Homo sapiens: one gene and its partner. The protein of the gene in region 2 binds, or shares a complex with, the protein of the main gene of each other region. Each region holds a gene or a part of one and is shown on either strand. Other genes may lie near its edges. A codon is read from its position in the direction of its gene.

The links. Proteins that work in one complex are often made in the same cells at the same time.
Region 1: the proteins of PTPN6 (region 2) and KLRC1 are in contact, whole or in part, in an NMR structure (PDB 2YU7), measured with the Homo sapiens proteins. Residues at the interface, in NP_002822.2 of Homo sapiens: Gly117 (codon at 6,579), Gly118 (codon at 6,576), Glu121 (codon at 6,567), Arg136 (codon at 6,522), Ser138 (codon at 6,516), Leu139 (codon at 6,513), Ser140 (codon at 6,510), Val146 (codon at 6,492), Thr165 (codon at 6,435), His166 (codon at 6,432), Ile167 (codon at 6,429), Lys168 (codon at 6,426), Val178 (codon at 6,240), Gly179 (codon at 6,237), Gly180 (codon at 6,234), Leu181 (codon at 6,231), Glu182 (codon at 6,228), Ile199 (codon at 6,177), Glu200 (codon at 6,174), Glu201 (codon at 6,171), Ala202 (codon at 6,168); in NP_002250.2 of Homo sapiens: Ile38 (codon at 924), Thr39 (codon at 921), Tyr40 (codon at 918), Ala41 (codon at 915), Glu42 (codon at 912), Leu43 (codon at 909), Asn44 (codon at 906), Leu45 (codon at 903), Gln46 (codon at 900), Lys47 (codon at 897).

The regions. Positions count from the first base shown.
Region 1 is NC_000012.12:10,450,122-10,458,162, forward strand, and holds the start of KLRC1 (NKG2-A/NKG2-B type II integral membrane protein), read right to left. Parts: upstream 3,257-8,041; 5' UTR 3,077-3,256; intron 1,067-3,076; 5' UTR 1,036-1,066; coding exon 849-1,035; intron 459-848; coding exon 363-458; intron 1-362. UniProt on the Homo sapiens protein: Immune inhibitory receptor involved in self-nonself discrimination.
Region 2 is NC_000012.12:6,953,834-6,961,405, reverse strand, and holds the end of PTPN6 (tyrosine-protein phosphatase non-receptor type 6), read right to left. Parts: intron 6,602-7,572; coding exon 6,412-6,601; intron 6,256-6,411; coding exon 6,139-6,255; intron 6,035-6,138; coding exon 5,921-6,034; intron 5,747-5,920; coding exon 5,650-5,746; intron 5,265-5,649; coding exon 5,185-5,264; intron 4,988-5,184; coding exon 4,838-4,987; intron 3,753-4,837; coding exon 3,621-3,752; intron 3,488-3,620; coding exon 3,333-3,487; intron 1,480-3,332; coding exon 1,412-1,479; intron 1,319-1,411; coding exon 1,167-1,318; intron 1,063-1,166; coding exon 971-1,062; intron 744-970; coding exon of another isoform or gene 601-743; coding exon 486-600; 3' UTR 461-485; intron 281-460; 3' UTR 90-280; downstream 1-89. UniProt on the Homo sapiens protein: Tyrosine phosphatase enzyme that plays important roles in controlling immune signaling pathways and fundamental physiological processes such as hematopoiesis.

The DNA of each region.
Region 1 (8,041 bases), 3.5 Mb from region 2:
TTTTGGAAAAGTATTTCATAGATCTAAAGAACCAAATTTCACCATCTCATATAGTTCTTATAATTCTTGATTTAACTACTTTCAAAAATTAATTTCTATTTCTCAGTAAGGTTTTTCAGACTCCTAGAACATATTTTTGAGTTATGAAATCCAAATATATACATACGATTGCATCAGAAGCGAATACTTTCAACAATTATTCTTTCATTTATTCTTTGACAAATTCAGAATAATCATTCCACATTTAGTCCAAATATATACATTACAATGAGAACTCTATTCCCTGAAAATATGAAATGTTTAGAGGCACATTCAATCATTAACGTGAAAATTCCCCTTGTAATCTTCGAAAATAGACTTACAGGGAATAACAACTATCGTTACCACAGAGGCCATTAAGATAAGACAGATAATTCCCAGGATCCCAACAATGAGCTTCTCTGGAGCTGATGGTAAATCTGCAGGGAGAGAAATGGGAACAGTGCGAAAGGAGAGGTGGATACAGTCGTTTAGAAGATTCACAGACAAGAGAACCTGAATGCACAGGAATCATACAGAGAAACTTGGACCCCAAACCCTCATCTCCCATTGTAATCTTTTTCTCAGAATAATATACCATTGAATTTTCAGGAAAAATAATGCTCCATGAATTATTTGACAAAGACTACAAACTTCAACAATGAGTTCAATCAGTCTTCATACTTTACATTGAAATAGCATATCTCAACTTGGAATTCTGATCTTTGCAAATAGAAGATATATGAGCACTCCCTTCTCTTTCCCCACATTCCTGTACCCCAAGCTGCACATCCTAGACTGTTATATTGAGGATCTTTTAAATGCTTTACCTTTGCAGTGATAGGTTTTGTCATTCCCTTGAAAATCCTGAGAAGCTTTTTGAAGGTTTAATTCCGCATAGGTTATTTCCTGTTCAGTTGCTAAAATGGAGTTTTTATTGCCTTTAGGTTTTCGTTGCTGCCTCTTTGGGTTTGGGGGCAGATTCAGGTCTGAGTAGATTACTCCTTGGTTATCCATCTCTGCAGTGTGTGATGTCAGGGACTGTACTCTATAATAACAGTAGTTAAGAAGTTAATAAATGGTTTATATACAGGATTCCCTAGTGCAATTAAAAGGGTGAGGTGGAGAACGAGTATTGGAGCTCATTTTGCATTAAATAATCTAAAGTTCTTTCTCTGATTTTCTTCAAGCCTAAACACGTTTCTTATGAATATTTGTTTTAAAAAAAGATTTTTAGGCCGGGCGCGGTGGCTCACGCCTGTAATCCCAGCACTTTGGGAGGCCGAGGCATGCCGATCACGAGGTCAGGAGATCGAGACCATCCTGGCTAACACGGTGAAACTCCGTCTCTACTAAAAATACAAAAAGTAGTCGGGCATGATGTCAGGCGCCTGTAGTCCTAGCTACTCGGGAGGCTGAGGCAGGAGAATCTCTTGAACATGGGCGGCAGAGGTTGCAGTGAGCGGAGATTGTGCCACTGCACTCCAGCCTGGGCGACAGAGTGAGACTCCGACTCAAAAAAAAAAGATAAATTTTCTGCATTTGACAAAATATTATTGCTGGGGCAATGAGAAGCAATAAATTACTAAGGAATAAAGAAGTTCAGGAATAAAAATATATTTCTTAAAGTCTGATGTTTTACCTGTGTTAAAAATTAAAATGTTGTATTAGAAAAACTTCTGCACTCATTTTTATGTTAATTTTGAAATCCAGTAATGGTTAAGACTATGTGGTCTGCACATGAGTAATAGTAAAGTTGACATATATATATATAAAAATTTCTTGCACTACATTACTTTTAATTAGTAATTTATACACATTAATGAAAATCAATAGAGGTAATTAAATGGTCTTTTCTTAATGGCTGAAATGTTCTAAGAAATTATTAAAAATTATTTATTAAAAATTATAAAAAATTAAATATTTGTATATGACAGAAAATGCTATGTGACACAGTTAACTTATGCATAACCTAAATAGTATTAGGAACACTACATAAATTGTTAATACTTACAGAAGTATTGGTAATTTAATTAGTAATTGGTAATTTATTTCCTGGCTAAATTATGAACCAAAAAATGATAAATAAAAGTATAGGTAATTCATGTTAAAGCACATTTCATTTAAACTTATAGAATGATTTTATGGTTGTCAAAGTGAGTAAAGGCCACTTTAGTTGTATAAGTACTTGTAAAATTTCAGATAATGTAATTAAATCATTTAGTCAATGGGCTCTGGAGTCAGTGAGATCTAGAATTAATTCTAGCTTTGACACTTATAATGTGCGACCTTTAAAAAGTTATTCTATTTTTAATAACCCAGTTTGTTAATCTAAAATGGGCATAAGAACATATAAAACGTTGCATGTAAAACATTTACCACTCAACCTGGCACTTAAAGTTCTCAATAAGCATTAGCTACTTTAATTATTATTTTAGTCACAATTGTTATGTTACTGTTTCTGATTCATGTCAGTTAAAGCATGGAAAATAAATCTTCAGATAAGTCTCCTATGTCCATGCGCTACATCTTTTTTTGCAATATTTTGATCAATTTTTAAAAAGTATTTTTATTGCTTTGTAATACCTTTAGCATTTTATGTAATCTACCTCATTCTGATTTTTATTAAAAATAAAAACTGCTTTTCTCTAATCTACGTGTCTGAGGAATTGTATTTGGCTTTCATCAATTGATTGATTTATTTTAATAATCTTTAATGGCTAAGCTAAATATAAATTATTATTCAAAGATACATGATGTACTGATTACAAAATACAAAATTAATTGTTCATTATTGTGATGTTAATAGCTTTCCCTTAAACGATATTGATCAACAAACCCACTAGATTTCCACAAACAATAATTTGAAAACTTTAAGAAATCCTTCAACATATTTCATATTTTAGGTTTTTACCCTGAGTTATTCAAATGAAGACAGCAATATTCTACTTTGATTTTATTGTATATTAATTATACCTCCTTTGTATCATATTGAGCACTTGAAATCACCCACTAAATGAGGTAGGCTAGTAGAGAGTTGGAGAGTAGCAATACATACCTTCTGTCCCCAGAAAGTCACACATCCTTTAGTGGAGAGGCCAGGTTAGTCTCATAAAAAGGCCTGCTATAGCTGTGTAATAAAAGGTGAAATTTAAAGGCATAAATCCAAGACAAGAACAAACAATGCCTGCAATCTTCGCAGACTGCCCTGTGAAGGCTCAGAGTGAGTCAAGAGTGGAAAAAGTAGATTTCTCATCAACGTGTTACTAAGGTTTGAACAGGAAATTCTACACATGGGCTATTGTGAAATCAGTTTTATCTCATCACACACCTCCAAAATATAGGATACTTGGTCTATTAAAAGTACAAGGTTGACTTTGAAAGTGTGTCATTTAGTTGGTTCATTTTTCAAGTGCCTATGAGAATTTTTTTTTTTTCTGTCTTGATCACGAACATTGTCAACCCTCACCTTGTTAAGAGTGCCTTTTAGACTAGGTTGCTAAATCTTAACATTGCATACTTCTTTTCTTTATATTATTTTATTATGTCACTTCCATTATAATAGAAAACATTCTAAAACTCATAGTAATATTATCAACTGATATCTACTGATTTTTTCCTTAATTATTCTGAAAAATTACTGCAGTAATTACTCAATTGATTGTAGCTGGCACAAAAAGCATCATTGCCAAAGTTATATTATTAACTTCTCTTAGTTCTTAAATTTTTGCACTTAATTTTTAAAAATAGATTATTTAATCTTCAGATTACCCTTGATAAAAATATCTTGGATAGGTAAAATATTAATCAATTTTGAAATATATTAGCATACCAGAAATTGAAATATTAAATAGCTATTCATTACATTCTTCATTTATTCATCCTCCGCCATAACAAATTATGTCGACTTTCATAGAAATATTTAGTTGTAAATGACAAAAACTGAAGTCAAACTATGTATGGGGAAAAAGTAATTTTAAAATCTTACTAGGAGGAAAGTCAGTAAATTGGCAGAATAGGTGGTCCCCCACACATATGCCCCCACAGCAACAATAATTTTTCAGCCATCCACAGACAAAAGTTCCTTTGAGGGAGTTTGGAATTCAAGTAGGAGTTTGTAAAATGCCAGTGGAACCCAAGACCTAGGAAGGTTGTTTTAGGGAATAGATTTGCATCCAAGTGGCAGACTTACCAACAGTGATTCCATCTCCAGACCTGAAAAGGGACCCATCCTCCTGTGCTTGCCTTCAGCCCCATTTAGGCCTTGGTCATGCTGCCAAAACCATTTGCCCAGGGGCCCAGGAGGAGACTCACACACTAGTGTCTCAGGAGGTAGGCATATCAACTGTAGTCTCAATGTAGACCCTGAAACAGCCCTCTAACTTGGCTTTAACTAGTGTCAGCCACAACTTGAGATCAGTCCTTCACCCACAGAGACTTCCTGGGAGACATATACATCTGTACCTCTGGGGCATGCTTGCTGACCTCTGTCCTACAGAAGATACTAAAATGGCCCTGAATCTCCACTCAAACTCCTCTCAACTGTGACCTGAGTTAATCACAGGAAATTGCTGTGAGACTCAATCATCTTTGTCAGCAGTACAGGCTTGCTGACTTCAGTTCCACGGTAGTTTCTGAAACAGCCTTGAATCTTGACCTTCACCCTTCTCAGCTGTGGACTGTGAGCAGTCTTGCCAGCTCAGGGATACAGAGGGAGGACATGTGCATCCATGTCCCAACTAGGAGACCATTGACCTAGGTTTCACAGCAGATCCTTTAATTGGACAGAAAAGGGGCTTCGACACTTCTCAGCTATGCTAGAGAGCAGTTTGCCCATACAGGGACCTGGAGAGAGACATCATTAGTGCCCCTGCAGGCACAGACCTTAGTTTTATTTCAGATCTTGAAACAATTCTGGATCCAGCTCCAGCCCAACTCAACTACAGTCTGAGGCAAATCTGCCTGCCCACAGACCTGCCAGAAAACACACTCAACCATGACCCCAGAGACAGACATGAAGACACTGGTTTCAGCTATAGACCCCGAGGAAACCTTGTGACTTAGCACTAACTCCTCTGTGCCACAGGTTGAGGAACCCACTCAGAGACCCATGAGCAGCCTTCCCAGCAAACTAGATAAACTCTTCCCCAACTACACACCTAATAATAGACCCACCATTTACAGACCTTGAAGTGGACCCTCATCCCCTCCCCAGCCCTATACAGTATGATTCTAGAGCCAGTTTGGCCCTCTGAGGCACTAAATAGGATACAAGCCTGCTAGAAGCCCTAGTAAAAGGATCATGAACCAAAGATCCCACTCTGGACCCGTAAGCAACCATGTGATCTGGCTGTAACCCCATTCAACCATGATACTGAAGGCAATCTCATCAGCCCAGGACACTAACAGGAGAAGCTTTTAACCTACCGAAACCAGTCTGTAAAGACTGAAAGAGAGTCTGCTCTTTCAAATGCACAGACATCAGTACAAGGATAAACAAATAACAAAGCATCAGACAAATATGACACCACCAAAGGAAACTAATAAAGCTTTAGCAACTGATCCAAATAAATGGAGATCTATAAGTTTCCTTTAAAGTAATTCAAAACAATCATCTTAAAAAATCTCAGTGAGATGCAAAAGAAAAGAGTAAACAAAAAATACAACTAAAACAAAAAATACATGAACAAAATAAAAATTTAATAAAGAAATATAAACTATTAAAAAGAACCAAACAAAAATTCTGGAGCTGAAGAACACAATGAAAGAAATAAATAAGTCAATAGAGAGTTTTAATGCCCGACTCAATCATGCAGAGGAATTAGTGAACTCAAAAAAAGAGTCTTTTAAAATTAACAAATTAGAGTAAAAAAAGAATAAAAAGTGGCAAAGAAAGCATGAGACCTTTGAGACACCACCAAGAATATGGTATAGAAAGTATAGAAACTTCAGAAGGAGAAGAGAGACATAAAAAGTCAAAAATATTTTTTCTTTAAAGACATACTGTCTGAAAACCTTCCTCACTTGGGAAGGATATGGAAATCCAGATTCATGAAGCTCAATGAATCATGAGCAAGATCAGCCCAGAAAAGACTATTATGAGGCATAATATAATCAAATTGTCAAAAGTCTAAGATAAGAGAATCTCGTGGGGGGGTTTTGTTTATTTTTTAGCTTAATGTGATCTCGTTTGTCCATTTTTGCTTTGGTTTCCTGTGATTGTGGGGTATTACTCAAAAAATCTTTGGCCAGTCAACTGTCCTTGAGAATTTTTCCAATTTTTTTTCTTTCAACTTTTATTTTTAGATACAGGGAGTACATGTGCTGGTTTGTTACATGGGTATATTATACCAGAATAGTGAGTATAATCCAAAGTAGGTAGTTTTCTGAACCATTCTTCCCTGCTCTCCTCTCCCCTCTAGTAGTCTGCAGTGTCTTTTGTTCCCATATTTACGTCTAAGGGTGCTCAGTGTTTAGCTCCCACTTATAAGTGAGAACCTTCAGTAGTTGGTTTTCTGTTCCTGCATTAATTTGCTTAGGATTATGGCCTCCAGCTCTGTCCATGTTGCTGTAGAGGACATGGTTTTATCTTTTTTATGGCTGAGTACTAGTCCATGGTGTATATATGCCACATTTTCTTTATCCAGTCCACCACTGATGAGCACATAAGTTGATTCCATATCTTTGCTGTTGTGAATAGTGCTGTGATAAAAATGTGAGTGCATGCGTCTTTTTGATATAATGATCTATTTTCATTTGGTTATATTCCCAGTAGTGCAATTGAGGGTCAAATGGTAGCTCTGTTTGAAGTATTATGAGAAATCTCCAAACTACTTTCCACAGCGGTTAGGCTAGTTTACATTCCCACCAATAGTGTATTAGCATTTTCTTTTTTCTGCAGCCTCATCAGCATCTGTTGTTTTTGGACTTTTAAATAGTGGTCATTCTGACTAGTGTAAGATGGTATCTTACTGTGGTTTTGATTTGCATTTCTCTGTTGATTAGTGATGATAAGTGTTTTTTAATATGCTTGCTGGATACTTGTATGTCTTCTTTTAAGGAGTGTCTGTTTATGTCCTGTGCCCATTTTTAAATGAGGTTATTGTTTTTCCTTGTTGTTCTGTTTAAATTCCTTATAGATTCTGGATATTAGACCTTTGTCAGATGCATAGTTTGCAAATAATTTTTCCCACTCTGTAGGTTGTCTGTATATTTCATTAATAGTTTATTTTGCTGTGCAGAAGCTTTTTAGTTTAGGTCTCATTTGTCAATTTTTGTTTTTATTGCCCTTGCTTTTAAGGACATAGCCAAAAAATTGTTTGCCAAGGCTGATGTTGAGAAAGGTATTTCCTAGGTGTTCTTCTAAAATTTTTACAGATTGAGGTATCACATTTAAAATTTTAATTATCTTGAGTTAATTCTTCTATATGGTGAAAGGTAAGGGTCCATTTTAACTCTTCTGCACATGGCTAGACAGTTACACTAGTGATACAGGAACGAGAAAGAAATTATTTAGGCAGATAGTGAGGGTAAAGGAATTCTCAGCAAGGCTTCCCTTTTAACAAAAAGCAGCCCCAAATAACTTCTTTTCTAACAAAGAGCAGCCTGAAAAATGAAGCAGCAGACATAGATAAGCAGGCTGGAGACTTGCATGTGTGCATGCTGGCAGCTGTGCCAATAGAAAAGGGGCTGACTGGAAGCCAGGCATTTTCAACCTGGAGGCTCCATCTTCCCTTTTCTTTGTCACTAATAAAGAACCAGGCAACATGGCACAGGCCAGGTAGACAACCATCTGCATAATAAAAGACTAGGGTTGAGTGGCCAGCTTCTTTAAGCGCTATGCAAATGGCATGCCTAGTCCGACCAATCTTTCGTGCCCTATGTAAATCAGACACTGCCCCCTCAAGCTCATCTATAAAACCTTCTACATTTCACTGCAGAAGCAGCAACCCATTTCTCCAGTACCCATCCCTGGGCAGAGATCTCTTCTCTTTCTTTTGCCCATTAAACTTCCTGTCTTAAC
Region 2 (7,572 bases):
AGGCACGCACGGAGGCACACACAGTTACCCATCCTGCCCTGCCCTCTGGCCGCCCACTCACTGGGCAAGCAAAGGGCTCAGAGGCGACACACAGTGATCCCAGGGCTTTATTTACAAGAGGAGAAGGGTTGGCCCTGCCTGGGGCCTGGCTGGGCTATATACAGGGTCAGGGAGAGGTGGGGGGGATGCAGCCATTTAAATTACAAAAGAATGGGGCACTCCTAGGTTCAGGTTGTGAGTCTGTCCATCGCGAAATGCTTCCACAGGGTCAGGGCTGAGGCTGCCAAGAGAAGGGAGTGAGGGAGTGAGAGGGTAGCTGGAACCTGGAGGTGGAACAAGAGGGTCTGGGGCAGCTGGGAAGCACAGAATGAGGCTGCGGCCACCCCATCCACCCAGGGAAGGCAGTGGAGCCAAGGACACAGGGCAGGGCAGGGAGGACACCCAGGCAGAAGAGCTGTACCATGGCCACCTGAGGACAGCACCGCTCACTTCCTCTTGAGGGAACCCTTGCTCTTCTCCTTGTCTGCTGACCGCTGCTTCTTCACTTTCTCCTCCCTCTTGTTCTTAGTGTGCAGGTTCTCATACACATCCTCCTTGTGTCTGCAGCCGGGTGCAGGGGGGCAAGTACAGGCAGTTGGTGCAGGTCAGGAGACAGCACAGGGGGACCCGGCACTGGCAGTCCCCTCTGGCCACCCCGTCTCACAGGTGACGCAGCCACGGTCCCTGCACTAGACTCCAAGCTCCTAGAGGACAGAGGCTACATCTCATACACGAGTGCGCTGCTGGTACCTAGCAGAGGCCCACACGTGTGGGCACTCAGGAAATGCTTATGAACAGAAGGGGTGAGAACCAAGCCTGAACTTGAAGCCAGGTCCCCCCAGCTGCAACACTTGTCCTCTCCAGAAAGTGAGGATCGGGCTGGGCAGGACAAAGGGGTGGATGCCGGGCAGTGGCAGTCAGGGCCACTCACTTGGACGAGGTGCGGGAGGCCTTGGCATGGGCATTCTTCATGGCTGGGGGATAGGTGATGTTCCCGTACTCCGACTCCTGGCCCTTCTGCGACTGTGGGCAGAGGGACAGTGGGAAGGTGGTGGTCCCAGCAGGGCCAGGTGGCACCCATCCTGCACTGCAGCCCCCCCCCCCCCCAGGCCCTGCTCTGCACGCACCTGCAGGACCTCCAGCTTCTTCTTAGTGGTTTCAATGAACTGGGCGATGGCCACGTAGATGAACTTGTACTGCGCCTCCGTCTGCACCATGCCCGAGCGCTGCGCCCGCACCATCTGGATGGTCTTCTGGATGTCAATGTCACAGTCCAGGCCTGGGTGGGGGGCAGTCAAACCTCAGGTCCAGGCATAGGCGGACACCGAGGGGCTGCTCACCCCCCACCCCCAAACCCCCAGGTGCCCCTCACCCTTGGTGGAGATGTTCTCCATGAGCATGTCGATGACAATGATGGTGCCTGTGCGGCCGATGCCGGCGCTGGGGAAAGACGGGGGTGCCATCAGAGGCCAGTCAAGCCCTCCCCGGGAAGGGGGGTACCCAGCGCTCAGCTCCAGCCCCAGGCACCACAGGAGCAGCCTGAGCCTCCAGTGATGGGAGGGAATGTGCCCAGGGTCACCGGGCAAGTGATGATGGAGGTTTGCCCAGCTCTGCATGGACACGCTCCACCTCGGGCTCTGCGGTGCTGACGCTGGCTCCCCAGCTGCCACCATCCTTCCCTCCTCCACTCCTCGCGCCGACTCCTCACTCCTAGTGAGTGGCTGCCCCCACCCCGGAAGACCTGGGACCCCCAAATCCCACCACTGTCCTGCCGGCTCCCAGGTACCCTGAGCCCTCCCCGCCTCTCCCTGAAGGAGTTATGGAGCGTCTCTCAGCATGGCTTCACTTCCCTTTTCCTTCAAACCCTGACGTCAGGGAAAGGATAGCCCTGAGACAGCAGGGTGCGGGGGCACAGGGTCAGGGGACTCAGGGGAGCAGTGCAGTAGGAAGTTTCTCTCCTTTCCCAGCCCTGGGCAAACAGACCTCAGGGAGACCCCAGGCCCACCCTCAGCTGAGCCCAGCAAGCTGATGCCCTGAGTCGCGCTGTCTAATTTCAAACCCAGATTGTCAAAAATAACCCCCCACACCCACTTCCTTCCTGTAACGTCTAAATAAAGGCCATGGGGCTTTCAAGAAGTGTGTGAATGTGTGTGTGGCGGGTGAGCAGGAGGGTAGCTCTCGGGGATGGGCCTGTCCCTGAGAGAGCACAGGACAGAGCCGCGTCCCCGGACAGCCCATCGGGGGCACCTCTAGATTCAGCCGACTTGCCCTGTCCCAGGACAAACAGCTGCTGGGGGAAGAGGAGGAAGCCAGAGGCCGTCGCAGGCCTGGGGTCCACGGAGGGAGTGGGAAGGGACCGGGGCAAGGCAGGTTCCCATTCCCCTATTCTCTGCCTGATGTGAGTTACTAAACTAGTAACAGCGCCCAGTTTTTGAGGGCTGACGGAATTCCAGCCACAACGATAGGGTCTCATTGAGTTCTCACGACAACCCTGAGATCCTGATTTTACAGATGAGGAAGCTGAGGGTTAGAAAAGTTAAGTAATTTGTCCAAGACCACACAGCTGGTAAGCGGAGGGGCCCTGCACCCACTGCCTCTCATCCACCCAGGCCAGGCCAGCTCAGTGGGCTCACCTGTGGAACCCCTGCTCCTCCTTGCAGCCCCCACCTCTGCACCTTACCAGAGGTCTCCTGATCACAAACATGCGGGTAGATAGACAGAGGAGTTATGTGCAGCCCCAAAGAAGCATCACCCATCCCCACACAGCCCTGGGGGCCAGGATGGGGCACTGCCTGGGGAAGCTGGGAGAGAGGGCAGAGTCAGGAAGAAGCCGAAGCCCTGCGGCTACCGATGGAAAAAGAGGAGGAATGGGGAGCACATGCCTCATAGATGTTCCTGGGAGAAGAAACCAACAGAATGGGACCTCGAGAGAAAGCGGAGCAGCCGGGACACAGGCCTACTGTGGGTGCCTGCCCGGCCTTGCCCTGACTAGCTTGGGCCTGGCCAGCAACTGGGTCCCGGGCTCCTCCTCTGTATTTGGCAGGGTTGGGCGAGATGGTACATCCGGAGAGGGCTCTGAGGAAGATACCCACAGGCAGAGGGCCAAAGTGGGGCTGGTTCCAGCCACGATCCACCCAGGGTTCTGGAGCCATGAGGGGACCCAGGAGAAGCCGGGGGTGAGCGGAGGGCACTCAATGTGCGAGCTAACGTTTATATTGCTTATAACAGCTCATGGCACTTAGCAGTATTTACTTCTCAGCTGTCACTACTACCATCAGGATTATCATCCTCACCTGCAGTGCACGATGATGGGCCCTGCGTGAGGCAGACTTTCCTGCCGCTGGTTGATCTGGTCCAGGAAGCTGAGGACACCCCCAGGCTCACTGGGGACCCCATGGTCGGGCCAGCTCAGGTACTGGTAATGCCAGATCTCCCGAATCAGGTCTCCCTAAGCCGAGGACATAGGGTCAGTGCCCCCTCCTCTCTCGGAACACCTCATCCATCTCACCCTACCCGACCAGAGAGGAGAACAAGTCCAGGGAGGGACTCCCGGAATGGGGCAGGGCGTGGGGGCCACTCACATTGTCCAGCGGGGAGACCTGTAAGGTACGGAGTTTGTATTCGGTTGTGTCATGCTCCCCGCAGTTGGTCACAGAGTAGGGCCCATAAGCACGCTGCATGCCCACCTCGGGCCAGTATGGGACGCATTTGTTCTGGAAAGGGAGGGTCGGGTGGGGATGAGGCACAGAGCAGGGCACTGTGGCCCATCCCAGGTCCTGCTCTATGTTCTGAGTGCCTGGCACCGGCCCAAACATTTGTTGGATGGACGGATGGGCTGGCAGAGAGGCAGGAGACCTGGGCTCTCGTCTCAGATCAACCACCAACAGGTGGTGAGGCCTGGCCAGCCACTTCACCGGTACATCCGTTTGTCATTCAACAAACGTTGCCAGGGCAGGCATTGTCCCCGAAGCTGTGCAAACCACACAGCTTCACAGACACAAATAACACCCAGTCTGTGCCCCTGTGCCTCGAGGAGCTCACAGAGACAGGTGACCGGGGGAGACACCGCGCTGAGGAGCGTGGCTGGGAAAGACGTAATTCTCCCTCTAGGTCCTGGAGGAAACAAGACCTGGATTCACAGAGGAGGCAGCGCTCCGGCTGTGTCTTCAAAAACGAGGCATCTGCCAGGCAGAGATAGTGTGGAGAGAGTCATTTCCTAGCAGAAAATGAGCTTGTGCAAAGAAAGGCTGGGAACCTGAAAGAGCTGGGGCTGCTGGGGGCGGTGAGCCTTCAAGAGAAGCGTGCGGGTCAGAGGGAAGCCACCAGACCTTGAATGCCAGGCCTTAGAGTGCGACTTTATCCCAAAGGTGACCAGGAGCCATGGAAGAGATTTCAGAAAGGAAGGAACTTGACCCAGTTTGTGTCACGGATGGGATCACTTCAATGGCAGCACAGAGGGTGCTGTGTAGGGGGAGCCTGCAGGGTAAGGGGCAGACTCCAGAGAGATCTATGGGGCAGGGAGGACAGGAGGGGCCTGGATGCAGACAGGTGGGGCAGGGGTAGGAGGAAGGAGGACAGCCTGGAACCTGGGTCTGGAGCTCAGAAGAGCCCAGGGATGCATGCAGGGATCTGGGGGTCACGTTGTGTAGTCGAGACTTTGTCACTAGCCCTCAGTTTCCCAACAAGGGCCGGACCCTCACCCCTGAGATCCCTTTCTGCCCTGGCATCTGACTGCTCTTCGACTTAATGGCATGACCACAAGCACGGGGGCGGATGCGGGGAAGGGGGGGCGCCCTACCCGGCCTTTCTCCACCTCTCGGGTGGTCATGACGATGACACGGCTGTTCTCCTGCCACGCCATCTGCCAGAAGTCATTGACCGTGGCCTCCAGACAACCCTGGCTGGCGATGTAGGTCTTAGCGTTCTCATCAGGGCCTAGCAGCTGGTTCTGGACGCAAGCGTGGAGAGACGCACCCCAAGACAGTGAGCCCCTTGGCCCAGCACAGGCCCTGAACCACTGCCACCCTCACCCATGCAAGAAGCCAGCTTCGGCTTTGCCCAGCTGTCTCTGGATCTAGGGTCCCCCCACCAGACAGGGAATTCCCAGGGCCCAGCCTCTCCTCCCACGTGGCCCACACTGCTGACCTTGATGTAGTTGGCATTGATGTAGTCGGACCCGGGGATGTTACTGTCCCGTCCCTGCAGGATCACTCGGCTGTGGTCAACTGGGAGTGGGCGGAGAGGAGGCGAGATGGTCTGGGTTAGCCAGGGACTCACCACACCTGGGTCAGACCCTCCTGAGCTAACAGGCCATTCTGGTCTCAGAAGCCATGAGGCTTGCGGGGGACTGTGGGCAGCAGGGGTGGGGGATCATCTGTATGGAGGGAGTGAGGGAGTTCACAAGGAGGTTGGGAGCAGGGGGCAACCTGCCTGCTGGTGGTGGGGAGGCACTTCTGGGAGGAGTAGAGGCCTTTTGGAGAAGGGGGAGGCTCTGTGGGGGGTGTGGGGAGATGGCCCCTCCTGGCGTGGAGGGTGGAGACCTGTGAGATGAGGGGAGGCAGCTGGGGCAGGGGCGGTATCCTGGGTGAATGGGGCAGCCTGGGTGCTCACAGGGGAGAATGTTCTTGTAGCGGTTCTTGCCCTTGTTCTCTGGCCGCTGCCCTTCCAGACGCTGGTGCAAGTTCTTCACCTCCTGCTTCTGCAAACTCTGAGATGTGGGTGGGGAAATGAGCATCAGCTCCCAAAGAGGGCATCCATCGGGGGAGCTCACGTGGGGTGGGTCAGGAGCAGAGGTGGGCAAGGAGGGGAAGGTGTCCGCCTGGGGCCCCAGGCCGCTGCCACCACCTCAGCTGCCCCAGCCCTGCCGGTCCCCACCATGCACCTCAAACTCCTCCCAGAAGCCAGCCTTGGCTGTATCCTCGGACTCCTGCTTCTTGTTCAGTTCCAACACTCGGTTCTCAATGTCAGCCGCATTCACCCTCGTGGCATAGTACGGCTGGGGTGGGGAAGAGCGAGAAGTCAGCAACTCAGAGATCCCAGAAGCTCACATCTGGGGGACAGCTCAGGGGAAGTGGGGAGGCAGCTGGGCCCACCCCTGACCTGCCGCAGGTAGACAAAGGCGCCTGAGGCCTCCTCAATCCCCGTCTTCTTGAAATGCTCCACCAGGTCCGTGAGGCTGTCGAAGGTCTCCAAACCACCCACTGTGTAGCGTCCACCCTGGGGGGAGCCAAATTAGGCCATTCACAGGACTTGAGTCTCCCTCCCTGGGTCCCCAGCCTTGAATTCAAGCCCAGGCAGACCCTCCCTGCCACCCACACTGTGGTCACAGACAGGAGCCTCAGCAGAGGCTCCCCCGCCGCCTGGCTGCCTTACCTCGCACATGACCTTGATGTGGGTGACCCTGAGCGGGGAGCCTGGGCCAGCCTTGGGCTGGTCACTGAGCACAGAAAGCACGAAGTCTCCAGGCTGGCTGAGGCTCTCACGCACAAGAAACGTCCAGGGCTCGCCCTTGGCCTGCAGCAGCGTCTCTGCCTGCCCGCCAGACATGTGGCCATGGTACCACCTAGAGAAGGCAGCGTCAGGGAAGGTAAGACCCAGGCCACAGGGGAAGGCGCTGAGCAGAGACATTCACAGAGAGGGGCCGGAAATCAAGCACCTACTGTGTGCCAGGCACTGCGCTACATGCTTCCAAATCCACCACCTCATTTAGGTCTCTCACAAACATGCTGAGAGCTAGGTATGATATTACCCCCATTTTATAGATGAGGAAACTGACGCTGAGCTGTTACTCACTGGCCTAGGGCCCTTGACTGACTCTAGGGCAAGCTTCCAGAGCTCTGTTGCCCAGGCTGGAGTGCAGTGGCGCGGTTACAGCTCTCTGCAGCCTCGACCTCCCAGGTTCAAGCCATCCTAGCCTCCAGAGTTCTAACCGGGCTTCGAACCCAGAGCCCACCTCTGAAAGGCAGAAAGGCTGGCAATATTCAAAATATTTGGAGGAGAGAAGCTAAGGATGAATCTCCGTGAAGGATGGGACTGTGCCCCAGCAGAGACCAGAGGCAAAGAGAAACGCAGACCGAGGCCACACCACAGGGAGTGGTGGGAGATGGACACACAGACTCAAGTCACAAGGAAGGCGGATGGGGTGCGCTCCGCCAGGGAGGCGGGGAAGACAACCCCACTGGGGAAAGAGTGGTGTAGGGGGTTCTGGGGTGCCCTGGATGATGTCACTGAAGGGGAGCCCAGGGTTCAAACGGATTTGAAGGGGCTGTCAGGGCAGAAAGCAGAACTAAGCCCTTTCCCCGAAGCACACCCCTTTCCCAGGAGGAAACTGTAGCCCCACAAAGCCCAGCCCCACAGGAAACCACGTGATGGAAAAAACACAAAACTCCTTCTGGGGAGAGAGTGAGAAGTGAGGTTGTGAGGTTTCCTCAGCCCAGGGACGAGGGGAGGGCGGGCAAATTTTCCAACCGCAGGGATGGGGGGAAGGAGGGGAGGACCAGTCTGTCCCAACCCATCTCACCCCTGCCCGGAGGT